7 linked regions of the Homo sapiens genome follow. The protein of the gene in region 1 purifies or fractionates together with the protein of each later gene. This does not show direct contact. Each region holds a gene or a part of one and is shown in the gene's direction. Other genes may lie near its edges.

Region 1 (2,662 bases):
GCTGGAGTGCAGTGGCACAATCTCGACTCACTGCAACCTCCACCTCCTAGGTTCAAGCAATTCTCAGCCTCAGCCTCCTGAGTAGCTGGGATTACAGGCACATACCACCACATCTGGCTAATTTTTTGTATTTTTAGTAGAGACGGGTTTCACCATATTGGCCAGGCTGGTCTTAAACTCCTGGCCTCATGTGATCCGCCTGCCTTGGCCTCCCAAAGTGTGATTACAGGCGTGAGCCACCACACTTGGCCCAATAGTAGCTTATTCTAATCCCAGCTCTGCCACTGACTTGCTATGGCACTGCTGTTCCTTAAGTATCTCTCATCTAATGGGATCAGTTATCTGTGTTCACCAAACAGAACTAAGCGCAAGACTGAATTTTAAAATTCCCATGCAAAGGCTTTGAAAGATACAGTCCTCCACTTCCCCATACCCAGGCCTGAGAGTTATTCATTGAGTTTCTTGTACACTGCTTCTCTACCCCAGCTCATATACTCATAACCTTCCCCCTACCCTCAGGTGTGGGTTTTGCTACCAGGCAGGTGGCCAGCATGACCAAGCCTACCACAATCATCGAAAAGAATGGGGACATTCTCACCCTAAAAACACACAGCACCTTCAAGAACACAGAGATCAGCTTTAAGTTGGGGGTGGAGTTCGATGAGACAACAGCAGATGACAGGAAGGTCAAGGTAAGTCAGGGAAACAGGGGTGGGGAATGGAGAGTGCTGAGACTCTAAAAGAGAATAGGCTGGTAGTCTTGGCTCCCTGGTATTGCACCCTGAGGGGCAGACTATCATGGGGAATTTAAATGAAACAAGATTCATAAAGCCTGTGTAGTGCTGGAATGCCACTGATGCTAAATACATGTCAGTTCTGTCCTCTTGTTTTCTTCCCTCCCTTCTTGGGATTCATCTATTGTCTGCCTCGGAATGGGCAGCACAGAGCCAGGATGTTCTTCTGACCTCAGTATCTACTCCAGCTCCAGCTGGGTGACCCTGTGCAAGGTATGCAGTAGCTCTAGGTTTCTTTCCCCTTCCATAGATGGCAGAGTTATGTGGCCATGGCTGTGACCTGAAGTGCTTTAGGAATGATGCCCAGAAGTCAGGGCCCTCCACTGAGTGAGGTCATTGTGACCTCCAGCAGCAAAAAAGGCAGCCAGGAACTAGAAGCACCTACTCAGATGCCGCTTCAACTTCTAACTCCCAGACATGGCCAATGACCCTGACAAACTATTTCCAGTGTTGCCAGCTGACAGGCAGGAAGAGCTATGTTCCGTGATAGGGCATTCACCTTGTCATGAATGTGTTTGCAGTGTCTTCCCACCAAGCCTTAGCCCCTCCTCCCAGGGTTCTATCACCCTGCAGTGGCTGTCTTGGCAGCTTGCCTCAGCCTTCCAGGCCAGGCATGGGAGCGAGAGAACTTAAGGGCTTTGACCTCTATAGGGTGTCCCTATAGCAGTGTTCTATCATGACACTATCATTCAGCCCCATCAGCTGTTTCCTCTTCCTCATAGCTGTCCCCAGAAAGAACAGGATCACACAGGTGGCTGGCAGCAGAGCTGGGGATGGTGCCCAAAGATGGCAGTCTACCTTGGATAAAGGTGGCTGCCCCACCACCTGCTCATACCTCCTTGGACTTGCCTACTTTCTCAAGGGGCAAGAACCCCAATTAAACACAATAGCCCTGTGGAATGCCTAGGGCAAAAATATCTACTCTGAGTAGGCAAAAAAAACTAGGGGAATGAGAACAAGGAGTAAGGTAAGGATAAAAAAGAGCACACTAAGAGACAGGCCTCATACCCCTTATCACCTAAACAATACACAGAACCTTCTCAGATTCTCCTACTGAACCACCTTGCTCATCAGGATCCCTTAGCCTGGCCTTGTGGCCCCCAAACTCCTAGGAAAGAGAGCTGGAAGAGCTGCCAAATGAGAACCAGCTGATGTATGTATGCTGGCAGCACCCAGAGCTGAGGAACCACTTCAAGGGCATCCAGTCACAGGACTTTGTGGTTGCTGCCCTCTTGTTGGCTAAAGAGGTCACATGATGTGGACCAAGAAAAGGTGTAGGAATACAGGGCAGGAAGTCTAATTATCCAATACTTCCTATCACTAAGGGTCTTTTAGACATTATGTGGACTAACCACAAGGCTGGATAAAGATTCTCAGGACTACTCCTCCTCCTCAGTCAGTCTTTCCCAGGGATAGACTAGTAAATCCCACCTGTATCTGAGGGGACCAGGCTACGGGAATCACCTAGAGTACAGATAAGTGTCTGTCTTGAAGGCTTGTGGTACTTCTCAGAGCCAGGCTCTCTGGCTCCACCATACTGCCTGCCTCTCCCTCCTTGCCTAATATCTGAAGGCCTCTTCCCCAGAAAGGCAGTAGTGGAGCAGAGGCTGGAGGTGAACTAGATGTCTTGCAGGGATAGCTGGGAGGCGGATTGCCTGAGCTCTTGTCCTCACACCATCACTAGTTTGGGTCAAAGGCTGTGTGCTCTGTGGCCCAGTGTCCAGACCCCACCCTGCCCCTCAATTCCTGACTAAGATCACAGCTCAGGCCTCTACCCTCTTTCCACAGTCCATTGTGACACTGGATGGAGGGAAACTTGTTCACCTGCAGAAATGGGACGGGCAAGAGACCACACTTGTGCGGGAGCT
Region 2 (3,500 bases), on another chromosome or scaffold:
AAGGATGAGCACGTGGTGCAGAGGACAGAAAATACCTGCACACACACAGAAAAGGACACAGCCAGTGTTGAAACCTCTCTCTAGCCACGGTAGCCAGAAGACTTGACTCATTCCCAAGTGAGAGACCTTGTCGTGTATCTAATTTACACGTGCCTAAATTGCTGTTTGATAAAACTGCTCAGAATTTACTCATACTGTAATTTTTATTTAAACTTTGGTTGTTTTCTAAAGCCCCAGTGTGTTCATTTGCTAGGGATCCCATAACAAAATATCACAGGCTGGGCAGCTTAAACGATGGAATTCATTTTCATACGGTTCTGGAGGCTGGAAGTCCAAGGCCAAGACTTGTCCTGAGATTTGTCCTGAGACCTCTTTCCTTAACTTGGGGATAGCTGCCTTCTTGCTGTGTCCCCAGGCGGCCTTTTCTCTGCTGTCCCTTCCTCTTATGAGGACACCAGTCTTATTGGACCAGGGCCCCCTCTTAATGGCCTCATTTTGACATGATTGCCTCTTTAAAGGCCCTGTCTCTAAATGCAGTCACATTTTAAAGTACTGGGGATTAGGACTTCAACATATGAATTTGGAAGTTGGCGGGCAGGGAGTGTCACAATTCAGCTCATAACATCCAGGTCAAAGAAACCTCTTAAAGTGATACAGCCCACATATAACCTGACCTGGGTGTACCCAACTGAGCGTTCATCATTTTGCTATCAAAGCAAAGTCTGTCTGCCCTTGACTGAGCCTTCTAGGCTGGCAAATTCTGCAGCTAAATGTTGCATAATTGGTGCTTGAACAAGAACTAGTCTAAACATTATTGCCTACCCACTAAAGTTTTCGCACACATTAAAAATAGTGTAAAAGGTCCACATTGATAAGGATTAAAAGAACCATTAAAAATGTCCTTTCCATATTGTACTTAGATGAAGGCTTAATTCTTTTGGTTAGCAATTTAAATACTAGTTATATATTTTAAACTTAAAAAGAAAATATTATGGCGTGGCACTGTGTCACGCACCTGTAGTCTCAGCTACTTGGGAGGCTGAGGAAGGAAAATCGCTTGAGTCCAGGCATTCAAGGCTGTAGTGTACTTTGATCATGCGTATGAATAGCCATTGTGCTCCATTCTGGGCAACACAGTGAGACTCGGTCTCTTAAAAAAATTAGGGCAGAGGGAGAAGGTGGTGTCTGAAGAACAGATAGTCACTCTCTAATACGTGTAACAAAATATAGAGGTGTGGGAGAGGGAGCTGGGAACCCAGACCAACTCAAGCCTTAGGTTCAAAGCGAAAGAAGTACATGTTTTAAAGCTCAATTCATGAGAGTCCCACTGACTTTTAGCTCTTCTCTAATTCCCACTTTCCAGTGTCAGCTACTATAGTGTACTGCCTGTTGAGTCACACTAAGGACAGTGCTTCCAGGAGACAATAGGGTTTTTTTCTAAGCCCATTCCACTTCCTGCCTGAAAGGAGACAGGAAGATAAAGCCAGCTTCACAGACTGTAAATTCCAACCTTTGTACCTGAAGTTGGTCCTCTTACCTATCTACAGGAATAATGCAAGATCTTTGCCAAAGCTAAGAGGAGGGTGTTTTATCATGATGCGTTTAGTCCTTTCCTTGACAAATGTCAATGATAGCCAGAGATTAGGTCTCACAAATTCCCCCACGGGACCAGAGTTTAGATCTGGGAGGAGGAACCCAGGACATACACTCTTTCTAGCAAAGCCTGTTCTTGCTCTTTTTAGTGCCTCTGGCTAAAGCATTCTCTTTTTAAATCATTTGAGGTGGCCAAGAAGAGACAGGATCCTGAACAGAAGTGGCAAAAAAACAGACAGGAAGAGGCTTGTATTAGTTTGTTTTCACAGTGCTATAAAGAAATACCAGAGACTGGGTAATTTAGGAAGGAAAGAGGTTTAATTGGCTTACGGTTCCACAGGCTGTACAGGAAGCATGGCTGGGGAGGCCTCGGGAAACTTACAATCATGATGTAAGGTGAAGAGGAAGCAAGCACATAAGCAAGCACATCTTACATGGTCAGAGCAGGAGGAAGAGAGAGAGGGGGAGGTGAACTTTTAAACAACCAGATCTCTCGATAACTCACTATCACGAGAACAGCACCAAAGGGGAAATATGTCCCCATGATTTAATCACCTCCCACCAGGCCCCACCTCCAACACTGAGGATTACAATGTCACATGAGATTTGGGTAGGGACACAGAGCCAAACCATATCAGAGGCAGTCACTCGTTCCACTGTGACAAGATGGAAAAAGGGTAGATGTAGGTATTAGTAAGTGTGATGGTTTGGTAGCCAGAAGGTTTGTGGCTTTTGATTTTGCAAAAGTGAAATCTGTTGAGAGGAAGGGGAGACGTAGTAGATAGATACCATGGTTTGAGGAGAGTGGAAAAGGTTTTTTGTTTTGTTTTGTTTTGTTTTGTTTAATTTCAATAGCTTTTGGGCGAACAGGTGTTTTGTTACATGAATAAGTTCTTTCTTTAATGGTGATTTATCAGATTTTGGTGTACTCATCACCCGAGCAGTGTACATGGTACCCAATGTGTAGTCTTTTATTCCTCATCCCCCTCACACCCTTTCTTCTCTGAGTCCCCAAAGTCTATTGTATCATTCTTATGCCTTTGCATCCTCATAGCTCAGCTCCCACTTATGAATGAGAACATACGATGTTTGGTTTTTCATTCCTGACTTACTTCACTTAGAATAATAGTCTCCAATTCCATCCAAGTTGCTGTGAATGCCATTATTTTGTTCCTTTTTATGGCTGAGTAGTATTCCATAGTCTATATATATACCATCATTTCTTTATCCACTAGTTGATTGATGGGCATTTGTGTTGGCTCCATATTTTTGCAATTGCAAATTGTGCTACTATAAACGTGTGTGCAGGTATCTTTTTCATGTAATGACTTCTTTGCCTCTGGGTAGATACCCAGTAGTGGGATTGCTGGATTAAATGGTATTCTACTTTTAGTTCTTTAAAGAATCTCCACACTGTTTTCCATAGTGGTTGTACTAGTTTACATTCCTGAGAGTGGAAAAGGTTTAAAACACTCATTGCAGAGAAATGGGAAGAGAGCTGACTGGGGAAAGATGGTTCCATGGTTCACTGAAACCCCAGTGAGATGAGTAACTTTGAGTTTATAAGGACAACCCTCTCCCCAGGTGGGGGATTTTCTCCAGTAGTGCTTGATGGTACACGGGTAGCCATGGAGAAGATAGTTTTTTAAATAAGCTTTTTTATTTTGGAATAATTTTAGATTTATAGACAAGTTATAAAGACAGTACAGAGTTCTCAAGACCCCTCATCCGGATCCCCCTGGTAATCTTCTGACATCATCATAGTACATTTGTCAAAACTGTCTCTGTCTTTCATGACCTTTACAGTTTTGGGGAGGACTGGTCAGGTTCCTTGTAGAATGTCCCTCAGTCTGGGATTGTTTGATGTTTCTCCTCACAATTAAACTGGGATTATGGGCTATTAGGAA
Region 3 (3,500 bases), on another chromosome or scaffold:
GGATAATGTGGCAGGGGCTGCAGATGCGTGCCCCCAAGGCCCCCACATTTGGAATTGATTGGACTGTTTTGATGGTCTATCTCCAGAAACCCAGCCATGGGACCCGAGGGAATGAGTACTCCATTAAATCCCAGTTGTAGTGTGTTAAATTACTTTCAAAATATTTCTTTAGAAGTTCCTTTTTGATCTTTCTTTTTTGTTTGTTTTGGAAGAGAGTCTTGCTCTGTCGCCCAGGCTGGAGTGCAGTGGCACCTTCTTGGCTGACTGCAACCTCCGCCTCCTGAGTTCAAGTGATTCTCCTGCCTCAGCCACCTGAGTCTCTGGGATTACAGGTGTGCACCACCATGCCTGGCTAACTTTTGTATTTTAAGTAGAGACGGGGTTTCACCGTGTTGGCCAGGCTGGTCTCAAACTCCCGGCCTCATGTCATCCACCTGCCTTAGTCTCCCAAAGTGCTGGGATTTATAGCTATGACCCACAACACCCAGCCTCCTCTTTAGTATATTTTTGACTATTTTTTTTTTCTCCTGAGGATTAAGGGATAAGATAGGAACCTAGTTTCTTATCATACAGACTGGACTAGGGTGATTTTGCCCTTGTCTTAGAAAAGTGGAGGATCCTTGGTATGTTTTGTTTTCTATTTTACTTTATTTTTATTTTTGTTTCGGAGATGGTGTCTCGTCCTGTTGCCAAGGATGGGATTGCAGTGGCACGATCATGGCTGTTCGCAGCTTCAACCTCATGGTCTCAAACGATCCACTCATCTTGGCCTCCCAAAGTGTTGGGATTACAGGCGTGAGCCGCTGCACCCAGCTGGTTTGTTTTTTACTATATAATGGAAATTGTGACATTATTTCTTCTCTAACCAGAAGACAAGGTCAATAAGCCTTTTTTTCTAGCTAAGCTACTAGTAAAAGTTCAGTACCTAAAATGAGTGCCCCCGCTTTGGTGAGTGGGTGGGGGCAAACTGAGGCCGAGGCACCGGAGGTGGCCGGGGTATGTTTGCTGTCGTGTTGTGCACGTGGGCTTTCTTGTGGCTGGGTGGTTCTGTTGCGAATGCCCCAGACTCATTAACGTGCACATCTAATCCTTCTGCAGATGAATATTTCCCCCGCTTCCCTCGCCAGTCTTTATGAGGAAGACTTCAAGCAGGACATGGCAGCCCTGAAGGTAAAGTGTGGGGCTGGTTGTTCCTGCCATGAGGGTGACAGGCGTGAGCAATGACAGCTGGTGCTGGCTGACCTGTGCTTCTCACGAGGGAAACACGGTCACGTCTCCACTTCCTTGCAGGTTCTCCCACCCACGGTGTACCTGAGGGTAACCGAAAATATTCCTCAGATAATTTCTTTCATTGAAGGAATCATTGCTCGTGGGAACGCTTATTCAACGGCAAAAGGTAGGGTTTATGTTCTTTTTTTTTTTTTCTTTTTTTTTTTTTGAGACAGAGTTTTACTCTGTCACCCAGGCTGGAGTGCAGTGGTGCTATCTCAGCTCACTGCAACCTCTGCCTCCCTGGTTCAAGCGATTCTCCCGTCTCAGCCTCCTGAATAGCTGGGACTACAAGGTGCGTGCCACCATGCCCGGCTACATTTTTTTTGTTTTGGTATTTTTAGTAGAGATAAGGTTTCACCATGTTGGCCAAGCTGGTCTCAAACTCCTGACCTTGTGATCCACCTGCCTCAGCCTCCCAAAGTGCTGGGATTACAGGCGTGAGCCACTGTGCCCAGCCGGTTTATGTTCTTAAAACTAAAACATTACTGGGATTTGGAGAAACTGGATGTATTTATCAGCTGTAGGAACATACTAAAATTTACTTCTGTCTTGCTAGGATTCCAACAGCAAAGCTGTTGTGGGGTTTTCTACAATATTGTGTCTCTTTGCGAAATGGTTGAATTAGTTCTAAATATCTTTTCCAGGGAGAGGGGAACGTCTGGACAGCTAGTCTTGGTAACAGTCGTGGAATCTAGGTGGTAGGTGTACAGGTGTTCATTGTGGTGTTATTTCATCTTTGTTTAGGTATTTTCCTAACAAAAAGTTGGGGACAAACACAGTACCTCCAGAGACCTGCTCTCTTCTTATTAAAAGTCAGCCCAGGTCACCCCCGTCTGTTTGGCTATCGTTTTTTCACAGGCCATTACGAGTGAGTTGCGGGAGTCAGAGGTTGCAGTGAGCCGAGATCACACCATTGCACTCCAGCCTGGTGACAGAGCAAGACTCCGTCCACCCACCCTCCCCTGCACAAAAAACAAAAAGTTGCAGGGCCAGGCATGGTGGCTGATGCCTGTAATCCCAGTACTTTGGGAGGTGGAAGCGGGTGGATCACTTGAGGCCAAGAATTTGAGACCAGCCTGGGTAACATGTTAAAACCTTCTTTCTACTAAGATGACAAAAAATCAGCCAGGCCTGGTATCGCGCGCCTGTGGTCCCAGCTATTCTGGAGGCTGAGGCATGAGAATTGCTTGCACCCAGGAGGCATAGTTTGCAGTGAGCCGAGATCACACCATTGTACTCCAGCCTGGGTGACATTGCCAGACTGTCTCAAAAAATAAAAATAAAAAAGTGAGTTGCAGGGCTGGGCGTGGTGGCTGATACCTATAATCCCAGCACTTTGGGAGGCAGAGGCAGGTGGATCACTTGAGTCCAGGAGTTCAGGACCAGCCTGGGCAACATGGAGAGACCCCTTCTCTACAAAAATAAAATATAAAAATTAGCTAGGCATGGTGGCGTGCTCCTGTAGTCTCAGCTACTCAGGAGGCCGAGGTGAGAGGATAGATTGAGCCCAGGAAATTCGAGGCTGCAGTGAACCATGATTGTCCCACTGCACACCAGCCTGGGAGACAGAGCGAGACCTTGTCTCAAAAAAAAAAAAAAAAAGCGTGAGTTGCAGATGTTCTGTCGCATCAGCCATGACACTTCAACATGCATCTCTGCATAAAAGGAGTCCAGATGTCATGGTCAGACCTCAGACAATGAAGAATTTCTGGCTAGCTTCGCGTGTCCTCTCTGTATTAAATATACTCACTTGTCCCCAGGGCATGTGCTGCGTGTGCATTTGTTGGTTTAGTCTCCTCACTTTTTCCCCTCCTCTTTCTTTTTTTCTTTTTTTCTCTTTTTTTTTTTTTTTCATTTTTTCTGGGTAAGCACATGTAGATTCAAGACTCTGACAGGTCAGTTTTCCTGTGGAGCAGTCTGTGTTTAGATTTGCATGTTGCTTACTGCAGGTGGTTTCATTGGTTTGCGGATGCTAATCTTTGTCTGGTGGACCCCAGGCAAGGCTGGCGTCTTGCTGTTTTGCTGCTTTGGTGATGAAGCATCGCCATAAATCCGAACTAAATCCCACCCATCCTGGCTGCAAACCCTGACCACAGCCTCATCTCTCCATGAAGTTCTCCTTCACCCAGCACAGTTGAAAGTGAACTTACTTTCTCAGCCTTGATATCTCTGCTGTACCATTTGGCAGCCAGTTCTGCACTGCCATAGTTTGCTGTTTAATGTATTCA
Region 4 (4,011 bases), 7.5 Mb from region 1:
TCTCGCCTGTAATCCCAGCATTTTGGGAGGCCAAGGCGGGCGGATCACCTGAGGTCAGGAATTTGAGACCAGCCTGGCCAACACGGTGAAACCTCGTTTCTACTAAAAACACTAAAATTAGCCAGGCGTGGTGGTGCACACCTGTAATCCCAGCTACTCGGGAGACTGAGGCACGAGACTCTCTTGAACTCGGGAGGCGGAGGTTGCAGTGAGCCGAAATCGCGCCACTGCACTCCAACCTGGGTGACAGAGTGAGACTCCATCTCAAACAAACAAAACAAACCAACAAAACAAAAGAGAGAAAAACAGTGTTCTCAGCATTTTCTTTGCCTCAGGGCCATTGCGAATGCTACACCGTCTGGAAAGTTTTTCTTGTATCCTCTTCACCTGGATAGATTTTTTTTTTTTTCAGCCCTTCAGAAAGTACACCTAGATAAATCTTAATCATTTTTTTAAGGTATGAAATCTAAGGATGCCCCCTCTCTGGAGCTGCCTGCCTGTGTTTGAATCCTGAAGATCGTGATGCGTGAGTTAATCCGTGCTAAGAACTCGGAACAGTGAGTAGCAAATCGTTGCTTCTTATAGTGCAAGTTAGAAATGACACAACTGTTTGTGTAACTATTAATATGTGTCTCCTCACACCTCCCACACTCTAAACACAAGAAGCCACAGAATTTGGTTAATTTCTTTTCATGTTTTTGTTTGTTTGGTTTTGGGTTTTTTGTTTTGGACAGGCTCTCACTGTGTCGCCCAGGCTGGAGTGCAGTGGCACGATCTCCGCTCGCTGCAACCTCGCCTCCCGGGTTCAAACAATTCTCCTGCCTCAGCTTCCCAAGTAGCTGGGATTACAGGCGCCCACCACCACGCCCGGCTTTTTTTTTTTTTTTTTTTTTTTTTTTTTTTTTTTGGATTTTTTGGAGAGACGGGGGTTTCGCCATGTTAGCCAGGCTGGTCTCGAATTCCTGACCTCAGGTGATCTACCCGCCTCGGTCTCCCAAAGTGCTAGGATTACATGGTGTCCAGGCTGATTCTGTTCATCTTTATATTCCTAGCGTCTCACTTGGCCTGGCATGGAAGAGGCGCTCGGAATCAAAACGGAGAGAGGCTGGGGGTGGAGCCAGCTTCGGAAGTCACGGCGGAGGGGCGGGGGCGGGGCCGCGCCCACCAGACGAGCCATCGGTCACGCGGGGCCCAGCTGGACTGCCGCGGGGGATTCTGGGCCAAGATGGCAGCAATGAGGAAGGCGCTTCCGCGGCGACTGGTGGGCTTGGCGTCCCTCCGGGCTGTAAGTGCCCCGAGCCGCCGAGGCGGCGGCCCTGCAGGCACTCTGACTGTCAGGGTTGGGGGCTTGGCCCGTGGTGACTGCTCTCTTAGAGGCGAGGCCGGACAGCTCTCAGGCCAGAGTCGGGAGGGCGTTGGAGTCCTGGACCCTCCCTTTTCCCCTCAAATCCTTTGAAGGGGATGGGAAAACTGAGGTCCGGAGAGGTGGAGTGACTTGTCTGGGTCATGGAGACCTGGGACGCCATCCTAGGTGCCCTGATTCCCCGCCCAGGGCCCTTTCCGATGACCCTGGCCCCTTTCTCCCTCTAATTGAACTTCAGACCTCTCCAACTCTTCATTAGTGAAAATCAAGAACACGCTTCCATTTCCTTCGTCTCCATTTCCAACTGTTGTTGCTTTTAGAGATGCTTGGGGAACTATCCCAGCCTACCGAGCGGGACTTGCGTTGATTGGAGCCAAGCTGTGATTCCCTTGGAATTGCACTTTGATCCTGTTCGATCCTGATGTTTTCCCCTCTCCCATTCTCAGCGCAGAAAAAGTGTGGGAGACGTAGCTGTATGGAGCAGAAAAAATAAAAGCTGAAGCTAGGGTGTCCCAATAGTTCTGCCACTTTCTAGACTTAATGACATAGTTATTTACTTTCTCTAAACCTCAGCTCTTTCGTCTGTAAAACGGACAACATTCCCTTGGGGTTGTTTTGGAAATTAGAGAAAATGTAAGTAACACATCTGGCAGTGTTCTGGCTCCTAATAAGTGATCAGTCGGTGGTGGTATTTTTACCTTAGGGAGTTGAGAAGGAGTTATAACTGTATAGAGGGAAAAATACACTCCTGGCACTGGGTCCCTCTCAGAAAGCCACGTTAATATCTTTACTTGGCCATTCACCTGCACCACCTGCTCATGTGTAAAATGAAGATGGCAATTCCAACTTGGAAAGTTAAACGCAATAGTAGATATTAATAAGCTTTTAAGAAATATTTGGTGTAATGAGATGGCCCTCCATGGGGTTCCAAGCATAGGAACCAGTATTAGTATTAGGCCTAGATATGGGTTCAAGTCCAAGCTCTGTCACTTTCTAATTGTGATTTTTGGGTAACCTTTCTGAGGCTTAGTTTCTTCACCTACGGAGTTGGGATAATAATAGTCCCTGGCCTGTAGTTTAACACTGGGTTTAGTCAGTATTCGCTGTTGGTGTTGATGCAGGTACACCATACCTCAGGACACTGTGGCACAGTACTTGTGTGGTTAGGGGGACCCTCTCTGAGCAGAGCTTTACAGAGGAGGAACGGGATGTTTAACCAGGAGAAGACTGTGGACCGAACGAACGGTGGTAAAGAGGCAACAGTGGCCCAGAGGTTAGGAGCTTGTGCTCTAGAGCCACACTGCCAGGTTTAGATATTGCCTCAGTGAGTAACTCCCCATGTCACCTCGGGAAGATTACTTAATCTCTTTGGGTCTCAGATTTCTTTTCTTTTCTTTCTTTTTTTTTTTCCTGAGACGGTGTCTTGCTCTGTCATCTGTCACCCAGACTGGAGTGCAGTGGCTCAATCTCAGCTCACTGCAACCTCTGCCTCCCAGGTTCAAGCGATTCTTCTGCCTCAGCCTCCCAAGTGGGGCCTTAGATTTCTTACAGTAAAATGGGGATGATGATAGTTCCTACCTGATAAGATTGTTGAGAGGACAGTATGGGTTAATATGTAAATGGCTCACCAGGCGTGGTGGCTCATGCCTATAATCCTAGCACTTTGGGAGGCTGAGGTGGGTGGATCACTTGAGGTCGGGAGTTCGGGACCAGCCTGGCCAACCTGGTGAAATCCTGTCTCTACTAAAATACAAAAAATTAGCCAGGTGTGGTGGTGCGCACCTGTAGTCCCAGCTACTCGGGAGGCTGAGGCAGGAGAATCACTTGAACCTGGGAGGTGAAGGTTGCAGTGAGCCAAGATCGCGCCACTGCTCTCCAGCCTGGAGACAGAATGAGACTGTATCTCAAATAAATAAATAAATAAATAAATATGTAAATGGCTCTTGTATGTGCCTGGCAAATATTAAGTGTTTAAAAACTGAATTATTATGTGAAGAGCTGTTACGGGGAAGGAAGGAAGTGGAATTGAGTTTATAATGTTCTAATAAAAGCAGCTTGGAAGCAGGTTTTAGAAGCTTTTTTTTTTTTTTTTTTTTTTGAGATGAAGAAGTCTCGCTCTTGTACCCCAGGCTGGAGTACAATGGCACGATCTCAGCTCACTGCAACCTCCTCCTCCTGGGTTCAAGCAATTCTCCTGCCTCAGCCTCCCGAGTAGCTGGGATTGCAGGCACCTGCTGCCATGCCTAGCTAATTTATGTGTTTTTAGTAGAGATAGGGCTTCACCATGTTGGCTAGGCTGGTCTCGAACTTCTGACCTCAGGTGATCTGCCCACCTCGGCCTCCCAAAGTGCTGGGATTACAGGCGTGAGCCACCACGCTTGGCCTGAAGCAGGTTTTAGATTATTTCAGCAACACTCAACTGTTATTTATCGAGCCCCTATTATGTCCCAGGGCCTTAGAAATACAGCATTGAATAAAACAAAGTCCCTGTCTCATGAAACTTATGTTCCAGTGAGATAGTTTTAGGGTGATATACTAGCAGAGGCTGAACATCCCTGTTGGAGGGAGATTCAAGTTGCAGGGACCTTCCAACTTAGCCTGTTGACGTCATGAAATTCAATGGCTCATCGCCTTAGTCTCTAAGAAAG
Region 5 (3,500 bases), on another chromosome or scaffold:
AAGTAATCTCTAATTGAAGGTGTGAAAAGACTGAGAACGTCTGTTGCAGCACGGCATAGATGAGTGCTTGAAAGATAGAAACTTAAGTTCATTCTACACCTGGAAGGTCATTTGTCATTGTGTTTGTGCTTTTGGATCACATCAAAGGAAGATTGTTTACTCCTTTGAACATTTTTACATTACTTCATAGGTTGTTATTTCTGTTTGCCTTCTCACAGGAAAGCAAGGATGAATTTCCTACCCTTGTTTCTATCTTGGCTTGCTTTCAGAAAATAGCTTGTAAATGTAATTAGTGTTTATTTTAAAATGGTTTCACAACTTTTCTGTTGCTATTTTCATGTACAGGTGGAGCATCCCTAATCTAAAAATCCAAAATTCTCTAAAATCCCAAACTTTTTGAACACCAACATATGGAAAATTCTACATCTCACCTCATGCGACAAGTCAAAATGCAGACAAAACTTTCACACATAGAATTATTTAAAATATCATATAAAATAATTTTCAGGCTATGGGTATAAAGTGTATATGAAACACAAATGAATTTTGTGTTTGGACTTGGGTCCTATTCCCAAGCTATCTCATTATGTATATGCAAATATTCCAAAATTTGAAAATATCTGAAATCAAATGCTTGGTACCGGAAGGTACTTAACCTGTAGTAATAGAACTAACACTAAAGCACAGCACAGGCAAATACAGGTAAGGCTTCTCCAACTTGCCCTGGAGCAATCTTTGAAGTCAGTTGTTGAAGCTCAGGAGTTTTGAGGAATTCTCAAATCATTGTAAGAATCTGCAGCCTGACCAACATGGAGAAACCCCATCTCTACTAAAAATACAAAATTAGCCAGGCATGGTGGCAGGTGCATGTAGTCCCAGCTACTTGAGAGGTTGAGGCGGGAGAATTGCTTGAACCTGGGAGGCGGAGGTTGTGGTGAACCGAGATCACGCCACTGCACTCCAGCCTGGGCAACAAAGCAAGACCCTGTCTCAAAAAAAAAAAATCTTTAGAGGAATACTCTAGTTATAAGAATATTTCATCTTTAGGCCAGTGTTGTCAAATGGAAAGAAAATACAAGCTATGTATATACTTTTAACTTTTCTAGTAATATTTTAATATACTTTTAACTTTTCTAGTAATATTTTTAAAAATTGAGAAATTTTACATATAAATTGTTTGAAATCCAGTATATATTTTACACTGAAAGCACGTGTCAATTCAGGTGCTAAATTTTCATTGGAAATACTTGATCTGTATTTAGATATGATAAAATTTACATTTGAAAAAGTAGATTCATATACTCAAGTTGCTCCAGACCTACTTACAAGTTTTCCAGTAATGGATAAGAATAAATTTTTAGAATTTAAGTTAATTAAAATTAAATGAAAATACAGTTCCTCAGTCACACTAGCCACATTTAAAGGACTCGTTAAGTCACATGTGGCTAGTGGCCACTTTATTGGACCAACCTAAGACTTTGTGAGTTGGCCTACTTAATTTGTAATGGGAAGTTGGTGTGTGTACCAACTAAATTCTCTGCATTTCTGCACATGTCCAAGAAACGATGCTGAGATAGCATATGAATTTCTTTATAGGACTTAAGATGTTTTATGAAACTAGACTATTGAGCTCTTTTAAGATGGGGATCGTACATTCCAGTAGCAAGATACCACTCTCATAGTAGGCCCACATAGATGTTACTGAATGAACATGAATGAGTGAATGGGAGAGGGTATTCTTAATTATGACAAAGGACAGGTTCCCATGGAGGTGGAGTCCTTTAATTTTTATACCTTCTATTCCCACATACCTTTTTTAATGTAATGGAAATTGGGTTTTAAGTATTGAATTAATTGAATAGTACCTCCCCTTTGTATACTGCATGATAATTTACTTTGAGTCTTACAAGTAAAAATCCTTCAAGATAGTTAAGGCAGTTATTAGAGTAATACCTTTAAAGTGATTGTGGCATATTGAAAGTCCTCAATAAATGCCAGTTTCCTTTCTTTCCTTAAAAATGAAACCGTGGAATTTCATGCTCATTGAGGCATCCTGAACCATAGAAAAGCGCTCAAAAGCCTAACAAATGAAAGAGCAAGAAGTGGCCGGGCGTGGTGGCTCACGCCTGTTATCCCAGCACTTCGGGAGGCCAAGGTGGGTGGGTCGCTTGAGGTCGGGAGTTCGAAACCAGCCTGACCAATGTGCTGAAACCCCCTCCTCTGCTAAAAATACAAAATTAGCCGGGTGTGGTGGCTCATGCCTGTAATCCCAGCTACTTGGGAGGCTGAGGCAGGAGAATCACTTGGACTTGGGAGGTGCAGGTGGCAGTGAGCCAAGATCCCACCATTGCACTCCAGCCTGGACAACAAGAGCGAAATTCCATCTCAAAAAAAAAAAAAAAAAAAAGCAAGAAGTAATGCTGTCTTACATTAACTTATAAGTATTTACCTTATCTCATTCAACCCTTATAGCAGTTCATTGAGATAGATATTATTTGTGTTAAACTGTACTGCCACATTAAAAGCATGTGCTCAGTGTCTGGCTGCTGGGTTTTTTTAAATCTTGACTCTGCCACTTGCACTAACTGTATGACCTTTGGTAAGTTCCTGACACATTCTGTGCCTCAATTTCACCATTCTTCCAAGTGGGAATAATAATAGTACCTACCACCACAACAGTATGAATGATGCATGTAACTAGTTTAAAGCAGTGGCACAGGCCAGGTGTGGAGGCTCATGCCTGTAATCCTAGCACATTGGGAGGCCAAAGCAGGCAGATCGCTTGAGCTTACGAGTTCGAGACCGGCCTGAGCAACATGACAAAACCCAGTCTCTACATAAAATACCAAAAAAAAAAGGAAAGCTAGGTGTGGCAGCGCATGCCTGTGGTCCCAGCTACTTGGGAGGCTGAGGTGAGAGGATTGCTTGAGCCCAGGAGCTTCAGGCTGCAGTGAACCAAGGTTGCACCACTGCACCTCAGCCTGGACGACAGAGCAAGACCCTGATCCCCCCAAAAAAAGCAGTGGCAGGTAGTAAAGTGCTTATCAGTTTATCAGTGTTAGCTAAAATAAATGGTGGCAAGCTTAGATCTAATTAGGTAAATAGTCTTTTGTTATTACTTGCTATCCAAGTGGAAGAAGCCAGAATCATTTATTTAACTCATTAAAAAGGGATTCCTGCCTGACTAATCAAAAGGCAGTTTATCCTTCAAGGGCCAGCTCTAGGAAGACCTGCCTGACATGACACCTCCCTTTTGTCATCATGTCTCATACAGAATCACTCATTTCCTGGGCTGTCAATGCATGGAGAGCTTGCTGCTGGTGCAGCATTAATCATATATAGGATTCTTTCTTATATCTGTTATCTCTACCCAACTGGATATATCTTTAGAATAGTTCAAAGTTTTGTTCATCTTTATATCCTGTATTCATCTTTATATTCTGATGACACCAGTGTGTGCCTCAGTAGTTGTAGAGCAAATGAAAAGAGTTGGAGGAGTG
Region 6 (3,500 bases), on another chromosome or scaffold:
AACTTCACCTACTATCCCAACCCGGTGTTTGAGGCCTTTGGTCCCTCAGGAATCCTGGAGCTCAAGCCTGGCACGCCCATCATCCTAAAGGTGGAGTGAGGGTGGTGGGAGGCGGGGGTGGGAAAAGAAGGGGCTGCTGCATGGAAGGGGGTGTTCAAGTCACAGACTCCTGCCACATTTCTCAACCAGCATCTCTTGCAGAGGTTGCAGTGTAGCCCAGAGTGTGATAAATGTTCTCTCTGAGTCTGTACTGGGAAGAAAACTCTCTTTAGGGGCCGGTTCTACCCAGGGAAGGCAGATCCACCTTGGCTATTTGACTCTCAAGCTTTTATTGTCCTGAAAGTCCAAGTACTGGCAGGTCAGGCTCACTGCTTCCTCTGAGGCAGCCTTGTGCGAACCACAGCATAGGGCTTCCTTTGGAACATGGGTTACAGGTTAATTAAAGCTTATGACAATTTGAATCAATTGGTAGTGACTGACTCCAACTCTGCATTGAGAAGGATTCTGAGGCTGCATTTGGGATAAGCTGAAAGGAGTACTTTGATAACTGATTAGCCACTGGGAGGAAGAGGCAATGGTGGTAGTCATGCCATGAATATTTTTTGCACTTATTACCAAAGGTGGCTTCTTCACCAGCTCACCAGCGGGATGGGACCTCCAGGTGGGAGGACATGAGAGCCAGCTGGTAGCTGTGGTCCTCACTCTGGGGTGGGAACTGGTGCTTTCCCATTTGTACAGGGCAAGAACCTGATCCCGCCTGTGGCTGGGGGCAACGTGAAGCTGAACTACACTGTGCTGGTTGGGGAGAAGCCGTGCACCGTGACCGTGTCAGATGTCCAGCTGCTCTGCGAGTCCCCCAACCTCATCGGCAGGCACAAAGTGATGGTGAGGCTGGCAGAACCCCATCCTGGATGGAGCGGGCAGTAGGGATGCAGATGTGAGCTCAGGCCACCAAGGCTTTCCAAGAGGGGATTCTGTCCCACAAAGAACTTTTCCTGTAGCTACCCCACACCCCAAGTTCTTTCTTCATGTTCACTTTTGAGCTTCTCTCTTCTGTATTGTCATTCTTTCCACACTGGCTGGTGCAACAATAAGGAAAATGCAAAACAGCATTAAATAGTTGCTAAATCACCTGCAACAAACAAAGCCTTCAAGGAGAAGGCTGTTGCTGGCCCAGGGAATTCCGTAATATCTTAATATCATGTTCTGTGCTTCAGTTGTCCACCCTTAGATTGGGCATAAATCTTAGGGGAGCCAGTCATTTGTGGCAGACTGTGTTTAGGTCCCAGTTGTGTGCTGTTTTCTTATGAAGATGACAAAACTCGCTCCTGAATAAGAGGAGGTGAGGTTTTTCCAGTTGGGGGTGAGCTCTGTTAAGCTGTGCCTGTCCCCGCTCCCAGCCCCCCATGCCCTCTTGTCTATTTTGACACCAGTGATTGGTCTCCTTTCCGTCATCCTGCCCTGGTCACTAGTTCATGGGTAACTTGGGACTGTTGCCAAAGCTGCTGCGTCCCCACACCCAGCTCCCTCTTGCCCTGTGTGCCCCCAGGCCCGTGTCGGTGGCATGGAGTACTCCCCGGGGATGGTGTACATTGCCCCGGACAGCCCGCTCAGCCTGCCCGCCATCGTCAGCATCGCAGTGGCTGGCGGCCTCCTCATCATTTTCATCGTGGCCGTGCTCATTGCCTATAAACGCAAGTCCCGCGAAAGTGACCTCACGCTGAAGCGGCTGCAGATGCAGATGGACAACCTGGAGTCCCGTGTGGCCCTGGAGTGCAAGGAAGGTACTGAGTGGCCCCATGCTGGAGGCCATGTGTGTGTGCGTGTGTGCATATGTGTGTGCATGCACATCTGTGTATGTGTATGCATATGTTTCATATACAAACAAGCAGGCTGGGCAGCAGTGGGCAGTGCTGGAGGCTGGCGGTGTGTGTGTCTGTGCGAATGTGTGTGTGTGCATGTGTGTGTGTGCACATCTGTATGTATATATGTTTCATATACAAGCAAGCAGGCCGGGCAGCAGTGAGCAGTGCTGGAGGCTGTATATGTGTCTGTGTGCGTGCGCATCTGTGTATGTGTATATGTTTCATGTACAAGCAAGCAGGCCGGGCAGCAGTGGGCAGTGCTGGAGGCTCTGTGTGTGCGTGTGCATGTGTGTGTATGTATGTGTATGTGTTCCATTTACAAGCAAGCAGGCCAGGCAACTGTGAGCAGTGCTGGAGGCTGTGTGCGCGTGTGTGTGTGTATGTGTATGTGTTTCATTTACAAGCAAGCAGGCCAGGCAGCTGTGAGCAGTGCTGGAGGCTGTGTGTGTGTGTGTGTGAGCACGCACGTGTGTGAGCACGCACGTGTATGTGTATGTGTGTCATTTACAAGCAAGCAGGCCAGGCAGCTGTGAGCAGTGCTGGAGGCCGTGTGTGTGTGTGTGTGTGTGTGTGCGCGCGCGCCTGTATATGTGTATGTGTTTCATTTACAAGCAAGCAGGCCAGGCAGCTGTGGGCAGTGCTGGAGGCTGTGTGTGTGTGCACGTGTGTGTATGCGTATGTGTTTCATTTACAAGCAAGCAGGCCAGGCAGCTGTGGGCAGTGCTGGAGGCTGTGTGTGTGTGTGTGTGTGTGTGTGTGTATATATGTGTATGTGTATGTGTTTCATTTACAAGCAAGCAGCCCAGGCAGCTGTGGGCAGTGCTGGAGGCTGTGTGTGTGTGTGTGTGTGTGTGTGTATGTGTTTCATTTACAAGTGTGTGTGTGTGTGTGTATGTGTATGTGTATGTGTTTCATTTACAAGCAAGCAGGCCAGGCAGCTGTGGGCAATGCTGGAGGCTGTGCATCCTACCTGCATACCTGCAAAGCCTCTCACTCTATAGTCCCTATGCCTGTGTCCCAGACCACACCCATACCCAAGCAGGCCCCACCCTGGCAACACCAGAGAGGCCAAGGTCTCCTTGCCCTCTCCTTGAAGGTGTAGTGATTAGAATCTCTTTTATGTGTGGCAGGCACACAGCTTTGAATGTTGGAGGCGCTTGGTGACTTAAAGGAAAGCTGCAGACTGATAAAAAGCCAACTCCCTCCTTCTGCTCCCTGTGGGCCGAGCACCCCAACTGGGAGGGGGCAGCCGAGGGGAGCTCCCACCCAGGATTGTCACCTTCACCCCACTAGAGCACCTTCACCCCACTAGAGCAGCCTCCATACCTGGAATCCTGGTTGAGTGGGTTTTGCACTCTACTCGAGGGGAGGTCTGGGGGTGTCTTAACATGACGCATTTCAGCAATCTCCAGCTTTCTTCCTCTAGCAGGAAGGTAAGGCTGTAGGGCTGATCTGTGATTTAGAAGGAAGGGTGTTTCAAAGCTTGTATTAAAAAAATTACAAACACCACCATAAAGTGAAATCAGCTGCACTAAATCCAAGAAGGAAATTTAGGAGTCAGACTCTTGTAACCCCCAGGATATCATTTTGTGACTCATCCTGGGAGGATCTGAGCTGGTTCTTTGCTGTAGATTT
Region 7 (3,500 bases), about 23 Mb from region 1:
CGCATTTGAGCAGGCAGTAATGAGAATCATCACACTTAAGATGTATCAGTTGAGATTATCCAGTCTGAAGAACAGAATGAGAAAAGAATAAGGATGAAGAGAGACTTGTATGATGCCATCAAGCATACCAACAAAGGCATAGTGGGGGTCCTAGAAGGAGAGAAGAGAGAGAATGGGCAAAAGAATACTTGGGGAAATATTGGCCATAAACTTCCCAAATTTGGTGAAAAACACTGATGTATACATCCAAAAAGTTTAACAAACTATAAGTGGGATAAACTTAAAGTGATCTCTACCTAAACACATTATAATTAAACTGTTGAAAAACAAAGAAGAGAACCTTAAAAGCAGCAAGAGAAAAATGACTCTTTATGTACAAAAAATCCTAAGGAAAATTAACAGCTTTCTCATCAGAAGCCATGAAGGCCAAAAGGCAGGTAAATGACATATTCAAAGAGCTAAAAGAAAAAGACTGTAAGAATTCTATATCTAGCAAATCTATTCTTCAAAAATGAAAGAGTGGAAGAGAAGTAGTAGTAAAACCATCTATATGCAGACAACTTGACCGTGTATATAGAAAATCCTAAGGGATCCACTAAAAAACTCTTGGAACTAAGTTCAGCAAGCTTGTTGGAAACAACATCACCAGTACACAAAAATCATTTGTATTCTATAGATTTTTAATGAACACTCTGAAAATGAACTTAAGAAAACAATTCCATTTTAAATAGCATCAAAAAACACTTATGAGTACATTTAACAAAAGTAGCTAAAACTTATACTCTAAAAATACAAAAAACATTGTTGAAAGAAATTAAAGAAGACCTAAGTAAATAGGAAGACATCCCATGTTCATAGATTAGATCTTAATATTGTTAGATGGCAATACTCCCAAAATTAGTGTATCAATTCAGTGTAATTTTCTTTTTTGAGACATGAACTTGCTCTAATATTCAGGCTGGAGTGCAGTGGTATGATCATGGCTCGCTGCAACCTCAAACTCCTGGGCTCAAGCAGCCCTCCTGCCTCAGTCTCCCAAGCAACTGGGACTATAGGCATGTGATGCCACATCTGGCTAATTTCAGTGCAATCTGTATCAAAAGTCCAATTGGCTTCTCTGCAGAAATGGACAGGCTGATCATAATATTCACATAGAAATTCAAGGGACTCTGAATGACCAACAATCATGAAAGACAAAAAAAAAAAAAAAACAAAATTGGAAGACTCACACTTCCCAATTTCAAAACATACGACAGAGCTACAGTAATCAAGGCATTGTGGTACTGGCATAACAATAGACATATAGGTCAATGTAATAAAATTTAGAGCTCAGAAATAAGCCCTCACATTTATGGGGAATTTATTTTCAACAAGTGTGCCAAGACCATTCAATAGGGAGGTAATCTTTTCAACAAAGGATAGTGGGACAACTGGATATTCACATGTGGGAGAATGAAGCTAGAACTTTACCTCATACTATATAAAAAAGTTACCCAAAGTAGATCAAATACCCAAATGTAAGAGCTAAGACTATACAACTCTTAAAAGAAAACATAGATATGAATCTTCATGAACTTGGATATGACACAAAGCACAAGCAACAAAAGGAAAAGTAGATTGATTGCACTTCATCAAAAGTAAAAACTTTTTGCTTCAAAGGATACCATCAAAAAAATGAAAAGATAAATGTGAAGAAAAAAGTGAAAAGGGGCCAGATGCAGTGGCTCACACCTGTAATCCTAGCATTTTGGGAGGCCAGGGCAGGAGGACCACTTGAGGCCAGGAATTCGAGACCAACCTGGGCAACAAAGTGAGACCTCATCTCTACAAAAAAAAAAAAAAAAAAAAAAGTGAAAAAGCCCACAGAATGGAAGACAATATTGGTAAGTCATAAGGGACTTTTATCTACAACATATAAACAACTCTTATCATCTCAATAAGACAGGTAACTCAGTTTTTTAAATGAGGAAAGGATGTGAATAGACACTTCTCCAAAGACACACAAATGGCCAAAAAGCACATGAAAAGATGTTCAACATCATTAATAATTAGGAAATGCAAATCAAAACCATAGTAAGATACCATTGCATACCCACTAGGGTGGTTATACTTTTTAAAAAAAATCTATAGAGACAGGGTTTCTGTCACCCAGGCTATGTTTCGTAGCACTCGGATCACACGACCAGAGTAGTACATAATCCACCTGTTATACTGGCTCTTTACTTGTCTGTACCCCTCAACCCCTCAGTAGACTGTGAGTTCCTTGGGTACATACAGGAAGTAAATTTAAACTGCTGCTGCCACTGGGTCTGACATCTAGGCATGTACTTTGTAAATGTTTATTGAACTGAATCTGGCCACTGGTATTCCTTAACACAGGAGCTTGGGTTGGATAGAGGCCAGAGATAATAATTTAGGAGCAGGCTAGTGCAATAGAAGAGGAAGCCAGGTCTCTAGAGCTGATGCATCTAAATTTCATTTTTAGCGAATTGAACAGAGGGATGTGAGGAAAGCCAACTTGAAAGAAAAGAAGGAGAGGAATCAGAATGAGGCTTTACTCCAGGCCATCAAGGTGAGTTCTTAAACCTTAGGTTTTTATGGTCCTGCTAAATCCACTAATCCTGTGAAGCTTGTTGGGAACCTTTCTTGGGATGCTTTACCTGAAGGAATTTGTTCATTTTCTTTCTACTTTGGTAAAGCAGTGTGACAGAGGAGACCAGGCTCTGGAGTCAGGCCACCCCAGTTCAGTCAGCTCTCTCATGTGCATGTGTTGGTCTCAGTAACATATACAGTTGTCTCCACTTACCTGAAGCAGATGTATTCCAGGATCCACAGTGGATGCTTGAAATCTCAAATAGTTCCAAACCTGATTGCCATCAGTCAGAACACATTTCTGTTTGTGTCTTCCACCCACAAATATAATGCCTTTTCTATCTTAGCTAAAGCACTTATCACACACTGTGGCCATAATTTTTGCAGTTTGAGGTACATCAGCAACAGCAAAACTAGCATGAATTTCTTTTTCCTTCTTTGTAATTTCACAGATAGAAGGTTGCTCTTACCATAGATCTTAGCAACCTCAGCATACAATTTTTCTTCTAATTAAGTTGAGAAATTTCACCTTTTTACTTAAAGGAGGTAGTTTATAGCTTCTATTTGGCATATCCGAATTGCCAGCATCAGTACTCTTGTGCTTTGGGGTCCTTATTAAGTAAAATGAGTGTTACTTAATACAGGGACTGTGATACCATGACAGTCAATCTGATCATTGAGATGGGTGCTAACTCACAGGTGGGTATCATCTACAGCGTGGATGTGCTGGCCAAAGAGCAGAGCCCGTGATTTCATCATCTGCTACTCAGTGCATAATTTAAAACTTACAGGTTGTTTATTTCTGGAATTTTTCATTTAATATTTTCAGACCATGGTTGACCACTGGTAACTGAATCTGTGGAAAGCAAAACCGTGGATAAGGGGACACTACTGTACTGAATACCTGC

What was found.
Region 2: the proteins of FABP3 (region 1) and MSRB2 fractionate together in Homo sapiens (co-fractionation; one large-scale study listed by BioGRID). This does not show direct contact.
Region 3: the proteins of FABP3 (region 1) and CARS2 fractionate together in Homo sapiens (co-fractionation; one large-scale study listed by BioGRID). This does not show direct contact.
Region 4: the proteins of FABP3 (region 1) and HMGCL fractionate together in Homo sapiens (co-fractionation; one large-scale study listed by BioGRID). This does not show direct contact.
Region 5: the proteins of FABP3 (region 1) and DSTN fractionate together in Homo sapiens (co-fractionation; one large-scale study listed by BioGRID). This does not show direct contact.
Region 6: the proteins of FABP3 (region 1) and PLXNA4 purify together in Homo sapiens (co-immunoprecipitation; one large-scale study listed by IntAct). This does not show direct contact.
Region 7: the proteins of FABP3 (region 1) and TTC4 purify together in Homo sapiens (co-immunoprecipitation; one large-scale study listed by IntAct). This does not show direct contact.

What each region holds. Positions count from the first base shown.
Region 1 is NC_000001.11:31,367,415-31,370,076, reverse strand, and holds part of FABP3 (fatty acid-binding protein, heart), read left to right. Parts: intron 1-486; coding exon of another isoform or gene 487-519; coding exon 520-692; intron 693-2,582; coding exon 2,583-2,662. UniProt on the Homo sapiens protein: FABPs are thought to play a role in the intracellular transport of long-chain fatty acids and their acyl-CoA esters.
Region 2 is NC_000010.11:23,098,579-23,102,078, forward strand, and holds part of MSRB2 (methionine-R-sulfoxide reductase B2, mitochondrial precursor), read left to right. Parts: intron 1-3,500. UniProt on the Homo sapiens protein: Methionine-sulfoxide reductase that specifically reduces methionine (R)-sulfoxide back to methionine.
Region 3 is NC_000013.11:110,685,617-110,689,116, reverse strand, and holds part of CARS2 (probable cysteine--tRNA ligase, mitochondrial), read left to right. Parts: intron 1-1,098; coding exon 1,099-1,170; intron 1,171-1,290; coding exon 1,291-1,396; intron 1,397-3,500. UniProt on the Homo sapiens protein: Mitochondrial cysteine-specific aminoacyl-tRNA synthetase that catalyzes the ATP-dependent ligation of cysteine to tRNA(Cys). In addition to its role as an aminoacyl-tRNA synthetase, has also cysteine persulfide synthase activity.
Region 4 is NC_000001.11:23,822,630-23,826,640, reverse strand, and holds the start of HMGCL (hydroxymethylglutaryl-CoA lyase, mitochondrial isoform 1 precursor), read left to right. Parts: upstream 1-1,211; 5' UTR 1,212-1,225; coding exon 1,226-1,285; intron 1,286-4,011. UniProt on the Homo sapiens protein: Mitochondrial 3-hydroxy-3-methylglutaryl-CoA lyase that catalyzes a cation-dependent cleavage of (S)-3-hydroxy-3-methylglutaryl-CoA into acetyl-CoA and acetoacetate, a key step in ketogenesis. Terminal step in leucine catabolism.
Region 5 is NC_000020.11:17,576,575-17,580,074, forward strand, and holds part of DSTN (destrin), read left to right. Parts: intron 1-3,500. UniProt on the Homo sapiens protein: Actin-depolymerizing protein. Severs actin filaments (F-actin) and binds to actin monomers (G-actin). Acts in a pH-independent manner.
Region 6 is NC_000007.14:132,177,971-132,181,470, reverse strand, and holds part of PLXNA4 (plexin-A4 isoform 1 precursor), read left to right. Parts: coding exon 1-90; intron 91-738; coding exon 739-885; intron 886-1,549; coding exon 1,550-1,784; intron 1,785-3,500. UniProt on the Homo sapiens protein: Coreceptor for SEMA3A. Necessary for signaling by class 3 semaphorins and subsequent remodeling of the cytoskeleton. Plays a role in axon guidance in the developing nervous system. Class 3 semaphorins bind to a complex composed of a neuropilin and a plexin.
Region 7 is NC_000001.11:54,725,861-54,729,360, forward strand, and holds part of TTC4 (tetratricopeptide repeat protein 4), read left to right. Parts: intron 1-2,485; coding exon 2,486-2,572; intron 2,573-3,500.